2 separate regions of the Homo sapiens genome follow, and region 2 is linked to region 1. A link means that fine-mapping ties the variant in region 1 to the expression of a gene that starts in the linked region. Tissue or cell type: whole blood. Region 1 holds a variant in brackets; the other region holds the start of a gene. All regions are shown on one strand. Distances are from middle to middle.

Region 1 (4,000 bases):
GAAAACTGAGGCTTCAAGAGGCTAAATTAGTCACCCTAAGCAGGTATCAAGTTCATAGCTGAGTCAATCCCTAGTAAGTGGTTATAAACATCTATCGCCACATTTCACACACTAGGAAGAGAAATGATAAAGAAAGGATGTGTCCGGGCGCGGTGGCTCATACCTGTAATCCCAGCACTTCCGGAGGCCAAGGCAGGTGGATCACCTGAGGTCAGGAGTTCGAGACCAGCCTGGCCAACATGGTGAAACCCCGTCTCTGCTAAAAATACAAAAAATTAGCCAGGCGCGGTGGCAGGCACCTGTAATCCCAGCTACTCGGGAGGCTGAGGCAGGAGAATCGCTTGAACCCGGGAGGTGGAGGTTGCAGTGAGCCGAGATTGCGTCACTGCACTCCAGCCTAGGCAACAAGAGCGAAACTCCATCTCAAAAAAAAAAAAAAAAAGATGCACAAAGTTCTCACTAATCAAAGGAATAAGATGGCAGAAGAAAAGGCAACACAATAGAGCACCAAGAACAAGGAATCCTGATACCATGAGGAACCACTGGCTTCCTGGCCTGCTCCTCTTCAGTAGAAGAAGGGGTCAAGTGGGAAAAGCCCCTAAGGCTCTAAGGTGGCTGTGGTCCTAGAAGTCTATGAATAATCAATGGCTTCCCTCTTAATCAAAGCCAAATGCTCCACATTGAGTTTTGTAGTCTCCAAGCCAGGAACTGTGTCTAGCATAAAGTAGACACTAAAGAAATAAAATGTCCTGTTTTTCACCTAAGTAAACTTCAGGCTGAGAAGCGACCTTGCAATATACGGGGTGGGTTAATCTTGAAACCCTAAGCAATCAGTTCATTAAAATGTCAAAAGACCTTATTTACCCCTGCTTTCTTCTCAATATAACAGAATATCAGTATCCTAGGGGCTGTGTTATAGTATCGTTGCCATTAGAATACTGGAAATGACCCCAAAATTTAGGAAAGAGTAACAAGTGATACCAGTCCCCAGAAGTTAAGGTTACAGCCACGTTGTATAGAAGGCATTTTATTCTGAGGCAGAGCACAGTGTGATTCAGAGAACAGCCTCTATAACCAGACCCTAGAGTGCACAGCCTGAATCCTCACAAATAGCTGTGTGGCTTCTATGCCTCGGCTTCCTCCTCCGTAAACTGGGAGAGTGCTCCATCCGCACTGGGTTGTGCTGAGGATTAAATTAATCTAAGAAAAGCACTCAACACCATGCATAGCACATAGTAGTTAATAAATGTTAGCTATTAAGTGCTGATATTAATGATGCTAGCCTTACAAATGCACCTGAAAATCAATGACTTTAAAATGAAATTGGAGGTGGCAGAACTATTCAGAACAACAAATCAACCCACCTCAATAGGCAGTACTGCTTGTTGAGAGAACATTCTGCAAAACACTAGTGATGACACTTAGAAAATAAAAAGCAACATTTGAGCAAAGACTATAGATTTCACCTATCTTAACACTTTTTCCCAATAATAAAACCTATCTTTGGCCAGGAGCAGTGGCTCACACCTGTAATCCTAGCACTTTGGGAGGCCGAGGCGGGTGGATTGCCTGAGCTCAGGAGTTTGAGACCAGCCTGGGCAACATGGTAAAACCCCGTCTCTACTAAAATACAAAAAATTAGCCAGGCATGATGGTGTGCGCCTGTAATCCCAGCTACTCAAGAGGCTGAAGCACAAGAATCGTTTGAGCCCAGGAGATGGAGGTTGCAGTGAGCCAAGTTCGTGCCACTGCACTCCAGCCTGGGCAACAGAGCAAGACTCTGTCAAAAAAAAAAAACCAAAACTATCTTTCATTATGAATGTTTTGGATTATACAAGATCTTCACAAAATGTAAATGTTCTGATCAGATTCAGCCACCAATGCAGTCTAAGAACACCAATTCTCTCAGGAGAGCTGATGAGACTCAGAATCAGACCCTTACCATTCAAGCAACTATTATGTAACTCAATACTTTTCAAACAACCCATTAGTTTGAAATGAAAAAAAAAAA[C/AC]ACACACAAAAAACAGATCCAGATGAGCATTTTTAAAAAAGAATTAGAAGTGAATAGAAAATATCAGAGTATGATACAGGAAATAATGGTTAGACTTGCTTTGATAAACCTGTTTCAGCTATATGTACTGACTAGGTGGCAATACAAAATATATTTCTTATAATGGCTATAGTCGAAAATATCTGGGGAAAATATGATCTATTAAATATGGACACGGAAACCAAGTTTTTCAGCAAACTTTTCAAGTTTTTACATTTAACGCACTGGAAAACCCTAACAAGGGATTTGATTTATAGCATTTTTGTCCCATAAATTCAAACAAATAAATTCAGAATGACGGATCTCTCCCTCCTTGGACAGGAAACAGAAGTACAGAGAACTCCAACCAACACTAGGAAGAACAGAGTAATCGTTGTTTACATCTCTTCCCTCATTTACCTGTGTTTGGATAAGGAAACCCACATACCCTTAAGACAATAATTCTTTAAGTTCCCATTCTCTATGCACATCAATCCTAGAGAACATTAGTGTAGCTTTTTTCAGTAAGGGAGAAGAAAATGGAAATAAAGGGTTTTATTTAACCCAAATAATTTGATGAACACTCTTAAGCATTATGACTGAATAGAACCTTCTTTATTCTCAAGTTGCTTATAATTTACTAAGTGATATATTATTATAAGACACACACCCAAAAACCCAAGCAGGCTGTGCTTAAGGTGAGGGAGAGGAAGGGACATGAGCAGGAGGGATAAAGAGATGAAAATGTAAGAAAAAGAAAGTTAAGTGGCTGAGCATGGTGGCTCACACCTGTAATCCCAGCACTTTGGAAGGCTGAGGCAGGCGGATTACCTGAGGTCAGGAGTTAAGAGACCAGCCTGGCCAACATGGTGAAACTCCACCTCTACTAAAAATATAAAAATTAGCTGGGCGTGGTGGCGCATGCCTGTAATCCCAGCTACTCGGGAGGCTGAAGCATGAGAACTGCTTGAACCCAGGAGGCAGAGGTTGCATTGAGCCGAGATCATGCCACTGCACTCAGCCTGGGCGACAGAGTGAGACTGTGTCAAAAAAAAAAGAAAAGAAAGAACAAAAGAAAGATAGATAGATTAGCCTTTTAGTATGACCAGAATATCAATTAGCAGAGTTTGGGAGAGATGGGAAGAGGAATGGAAAGTAGGGTAATTGTGAAAGACAGAACAGAAAGAAAAAGGGATGAGAACACAAAAATGGATAGGTAGCTAGCCAACACATGCAACAAAACAGGGGAAGCAGAAGTGATGGTTACTCTTGGATACGCAGTGCAGAGCACCTTGAGTTGCAATCAGGGGGCTGTATGTTTTGACAGGTAACAAAAGGAATGATTTTTTTATCAGATGAACAAGCAGAAACCAATGAAAGGAATGATTTTTTATCAGAGAAATAAGCAGAAACCAAGAATATGAACATAGCTTGTTTTCCTACTGTTACATTTATGGCTCTCCTGGAGAACACCCTGAAGATGGATCCCTGCACCTGTCTTCCCTTCATTAGACACACAAGGATACTGACCAGAAGACAGTCTGCTCTCTCAGACACAAGATCCCTGTGATAACTTGGTTTGAAATTTCTGCCAGGCTTCAGTTAGAACTCAGAAATGCATAGCCTCGGGATATTTCTGGCTCCTCTCCCATGGCTCTCTAGTTAAAGCCAAAGAAAAGTGTAACTTCCTCTGGGTGTCTACAGGTTCTTCTAAGCAACCATTCCAGGAAGGAAAAAAGGCTGATTCCCCTTGGGAAGAGCAGCATAGGCACTCCAACTCAATAATCCCAGAGACTCAGTAAGTGTTCCAGTTATCTACTGCTGCACAACAAGCTACTCCAAAGCTCAGTGGCTTAAAACAACCACCATTTTTATCTCATGATTTTGAGAGTCAAGAATTTGGGAAGGGTTCAGCTGGATGATTCGTGTACTCCACACGGTATTGACTGAAGTCACACAGTGGTACTCAGC
Region 2 (4,175 bases), 30 kb after region 1:
ATTGTCAATTGAATTTCAGGCATCTGAGATTTCAGACATCAGGCAACGCCTTTTCTTTGAAAATTTTAAAATCTGAAAATGAAAAAAATAAGACTTCAAGAGTATTCAAACTTGAACACAGAAACTTTAACAAGTCAAAAGTTAAACAGAAATACTTAGATACACATTTCAAAAATAATTTTGGCCAACTTAAAAAATATAACAGGAGAAAATAAAGAGCAATCTCACAGATCTTAGGAAATCCTCGGTCACTAGCTATGTCTTCAGAAAGGCACCTTTAAAAAACTGAACTCAGTGCACTTTACTTCTTCAATCCCTGAAAAACAGATACCTCATAGTATCATTTTATGAAATTATTTTCAAAATGTTTCATTTGTTTAATGACTCAACTGCAAATAAGATGTTAAATAATTCTGCTTTTCTAACACTTATTCCACACACAATAATTTAATCCCACTTTTCAAAGTACTTTTTGTTAAGTCCAATTCTTTCTCTGGAATCCTGATACTTACATAAAGTTTAGTGTACCGGAGAGCAGCAAAATCATGATCAAAAGAACCATTTGCCTACAACATGTTCCTTTCCAACACCCCTAAGTGATATTAGCCTTACAAAATTACCCTCCCTTGACAGAAGAATGGCTTGAGGCAGTCTGTTCTCTCTGGAAGTTCATTAGTACCAGCTACTGGTAATAATCAAGCCTTCCAAGGCAATGGGGAGTGAAGTGTTAAGTCAAACGTGTTTCTCACACATAGATTCCTCTGTTAAACACAATAATGAAACTTTCTGCCTATTTACGTATCTCAATGATGAAGAAAACCTTAGCTAGACCGAACATTATTTTTGGTGCTTCCAGATACATATGTCCATCCTCAATCCACTGCCCTGCCATGAAGTTTTCTACACATCCCTTTCCTGATTTCTGAAACATCACTTACACGTGTTTCTACAGTTGCTTTGAATGAAAGCAAAAGGGAAGACAGTAAAGGAGAGCCTTTTTACCCAGGGACAAGGCTATGCCCAGCAATTACAGTGAGTGCACTTCCTTTTGTTCATTCTGCACCAGGATTAGCAGTCAAATCGCTTTGTGGTTCTTAATTAAGGCTGAGCAGCTATAAAGAACAATAACTTCAAAAGTGAATTTATGTTTTAATTACACATAGGCAATATAGGCAGCGAAGGCATTTGCTCCCCTCAAATTCCCCCTTAACTCAACAGAGCAATCACCCTCAGCCCTGGAAGGACATCTAAACATTTTAAAGGCGAAAGTGTTTAAGGCGGACCTTCTTGTTTCCGATCCAAGAATGCGCTGTGATGACCTTGCTAGCAAAGAGAAAAGTGGGGATGGGAGTTTCTGATTAACGCTTCAGAAAAAAAAGGGGGAAATCACAATCCTAACAGCCGAAATGCAGAATAATCAGAGAGCCAGAATCCCGTTAAGTCAGAAAGAACAGGAAAGCAGAGAGACTCGTGCGGAACATCCTGGCCCTCACGGGATGTTAAAAGCAGTATCTATTTAAGAAGTTGGAGAAAGGAGTTTCTGTGTGGCCCATGCCGGGGAACAGAGAGCAAACACGCGGCCGTCTGCGCCCGTGAGGCCGGCCACTGGGACGGAGCCGGTCCGGGAGCTGGGCTGCTGGCGAGCAGTAGCAGGGGACGGGGCTGTCACCGCTTACCCAGGTGCAGCGTGAGGTTGATGGAGCTGGGGTACTGCACCCCGGCCAGCATGGTCTGGCTTTGCCACCAGGTGGTGTCGGCCTGGTTGTTGTAGTCGGTCAGGAAGGCTGCCCCGTGCTGCAGGTGGGGCTGCCCGGCGTCGCACAGGTGACAGGACTTGGTGACCCCGGTCACCCCGGTCTGCACACAGTATTCCTCGGGCGGAGTCCCACACGTGTTGGTGGCCACCACAGTCACGTTGAAGGCGGCGTTGACGAACTCGGGCATGCAGCGCTGCGGCCGCCCGCCCTCGTCCGTGCACTCGTCCATGGCTGCCTGGGCACAGCCCGCCGCGGCGGCCGCCGCCAGCACGGCCAGCACGGGCCAGAGCCGCCCCCGGGGCCGCAGGGCCGGCGCGGCCCGATGGCTCCCTCTCATCCCGCCGCCCGCACGCTGGGTCACGGCGAAGGCAAGGGCACCGGCGCGTTCCTCTCGCCTAGCGGCGTCCCCCGGAGGCCGCTTCGCTGCTTGAGCCTGGGGGCCCAGGGGCCTGACTCCGGCGCGGGCGGTGGCGGCGGCTCGCGCCGGAGAGACTGACGGGTGGGCGCCCCTAGCGAGGACCGCGCTGCTCGCCGACCACTGCCCCCGCGCGCCGCCTCCGCGCTTCCCTCACCTACCCCGGGAGCAGCCTGCACTCCGCGCCGACCCCCGACTTCCGAGCGCGTGCCCGAGTGCGCGCCCCCGGGGAGGAAGGAGCAGGGGGTGGGGTCGGCAGGGTGGGGTGGGGTCTGGGCGAGGAGAAAGCCCAACCCTGTCTCCTCTCAGCAACTCCCGCGGCCCCTGGGGCAACTCCCCGGCCCACCGCGCCCCATGGACTGCGCGTCCGCCCCGGCGACTCCAGGAGGCGGCGGGGGCGGGAGCAGCGGCGTCTCGCGCTCGGGCCCGCGGCGCGCGACCCGGGGGGAGGGGCGCGCGAGGTGGGCGGGGAGCCGGGGGAGGGGGTTGGGGGAGGGGAGGGGAGAGGAGGGGAGAGGAGGGGAGGGGAGAGGAGAGGAGGGGAGGGGAGGGCGGCTGGGTGGTGCATGCCGGGAGGGAAGGGCGGCCTCGCAGACCCGCTCCCCGCGCGGGAGTCGCTGGGGTCCTTGGGCTCCGCGGCCTGGGAGACTCCGGATTGCGGGAGGAGTCGGGGGAGGGCGCCTTAGAGGGGCGATGCCGGGTCAGGAGGTCGCTCGGGGTCGTCCCTGGGGCCTCGCGCCAATTTGGGCTGCGGCAAGAGGGTCCCCGCCCGGCCAGGTGTGGGTCCGAACCGGGAGCGCCCGCTGCTGCCCGGGGCCCCGCTCCAGCCCCTCCCGAACAGAGGTCCCGGGGCGTTCATGGGGCCGACACGGTCCCTGGAGAATCAGAAGGGCCTGGTCGCAGCAGCCAGATGAGTTTCGTGAAGCGATTTCCTGCCGCTGATTTAAAGTGTAACCAGTCGTTTTACCGGGGCAAGGAAGGAAGTGAAAAGGCTGGGAATGGAATGAATTTTTCCCTTGGGTACGCACGACCCACTGCGAAATTCTTCCACTGTGTTGTTTGTGTTCCTCGGCTTGCCTTTAAAAGACTCGAAATTATGTGGATTCTGACATCCTCCTTTTCGGGCCTGCTGAGTCACGGAATATTCTCAGTGCCAGAATGACTCAGTTCACAGAACCTGAGCCAGAAGATCATGAGTTTTAGTCCCGGAGCAGAACCTGGGCGCTTACCCAGTGCTGGATACGGCAAGCAGAGACCAGGGCAGGGAGGCAGCAGCTTGAAACCCTTGGCGTCCCCAAGCAGAGAGGATGCACATAGTGAATGACACGGATTTGTTTTGTTCTAGCTTTTCAGGAATTTAATGATAAAGTGCGGATAATAAGTACACCGCAAAAACAAAACAAAAAAACACATGCATAATTTCGGACCCAGTTGTCCCATTAAGATAGGCGTAATGGGAATCTGAAACAAGGAAATAAGTATATGTTAGGTGACTCTGGATAGTTAGGGTTAGTTAGACGCAGACTGCTGATTAGGAAAACCTTAAGGATAATGTTCTGGTAGGATGAAGAAGGGAGGGGAATCTAGGGTCTTGTTACACGGCTGAGCTTACTTAGCAAGTTATGTTCATCACTGTTCCGTTTATTTGATGAGATGGGTGGAGATTATGCATGGCTAAAGGTGCCTCATTCTTGGCACCTTCTCTTTGGGAGAATTAAGTTGTGGGGACTAATAATTTTTTAATCCTTTCATACATGAGTTGAAGCGAAATAAATACGTTCATTTACACCTAGAGGGGATTATATGCTCTCTCAGTCCTTCGTTGTACTTGAGGACAAACGTGGGCATATAGGACAAAAATAAGGATGTTAGTTGTGAATAAAGCTACAGATTTGTAATAAACTTGTTTATATTTTAATAAACATATTAGTGAATTTGCATTATTATACATTTTTAGTACTTTGTTATATAGTGGCCAAAGCGTGGGTCTCTATTTCCAACAA

Evidence for each region. PIP is the estimated chance that this variant, and not a neighbour inherited with it, causes the effect.
Region 2: LAMC1 starts here. The variant in region 1 is fine-mapped to the expression of LAMC1 in whole blood (INTERVAL, PIP 0.99).

What each region holds. Positions count from the first base shown.
Region 1 is chr1:183,051,431-183,055,430 of GRCh38, reverse strand. The region is part of intron 1 of LAMC1 (laminin subunit gamma 1); the gene reads right to left. Among named protein-coding and RNA genes, the nearest start is that of LAMC1, 30 kb to the right of the region's middle. The variant C/AC (reference allele first, on the strand shown) is at 2,012.
Region 2 is chr1:183,021,636-183,025,810 of GRCh38, reverse strand. LAMC1 (laminin subunit gamma 1) reads right to left here and starts at 2,391. Exons shown (of 28, transcript NM_002293.4): 1 at 1,677-2,391. The coding sequence starts at 2,094. RefSeq lists enhancers at 1,475-2,028, 2,584-3,138, 3,139-3,694 and silencers at 1,983-2,122, 2,143-2,212, 2,263-2,652, 2,683-3,072.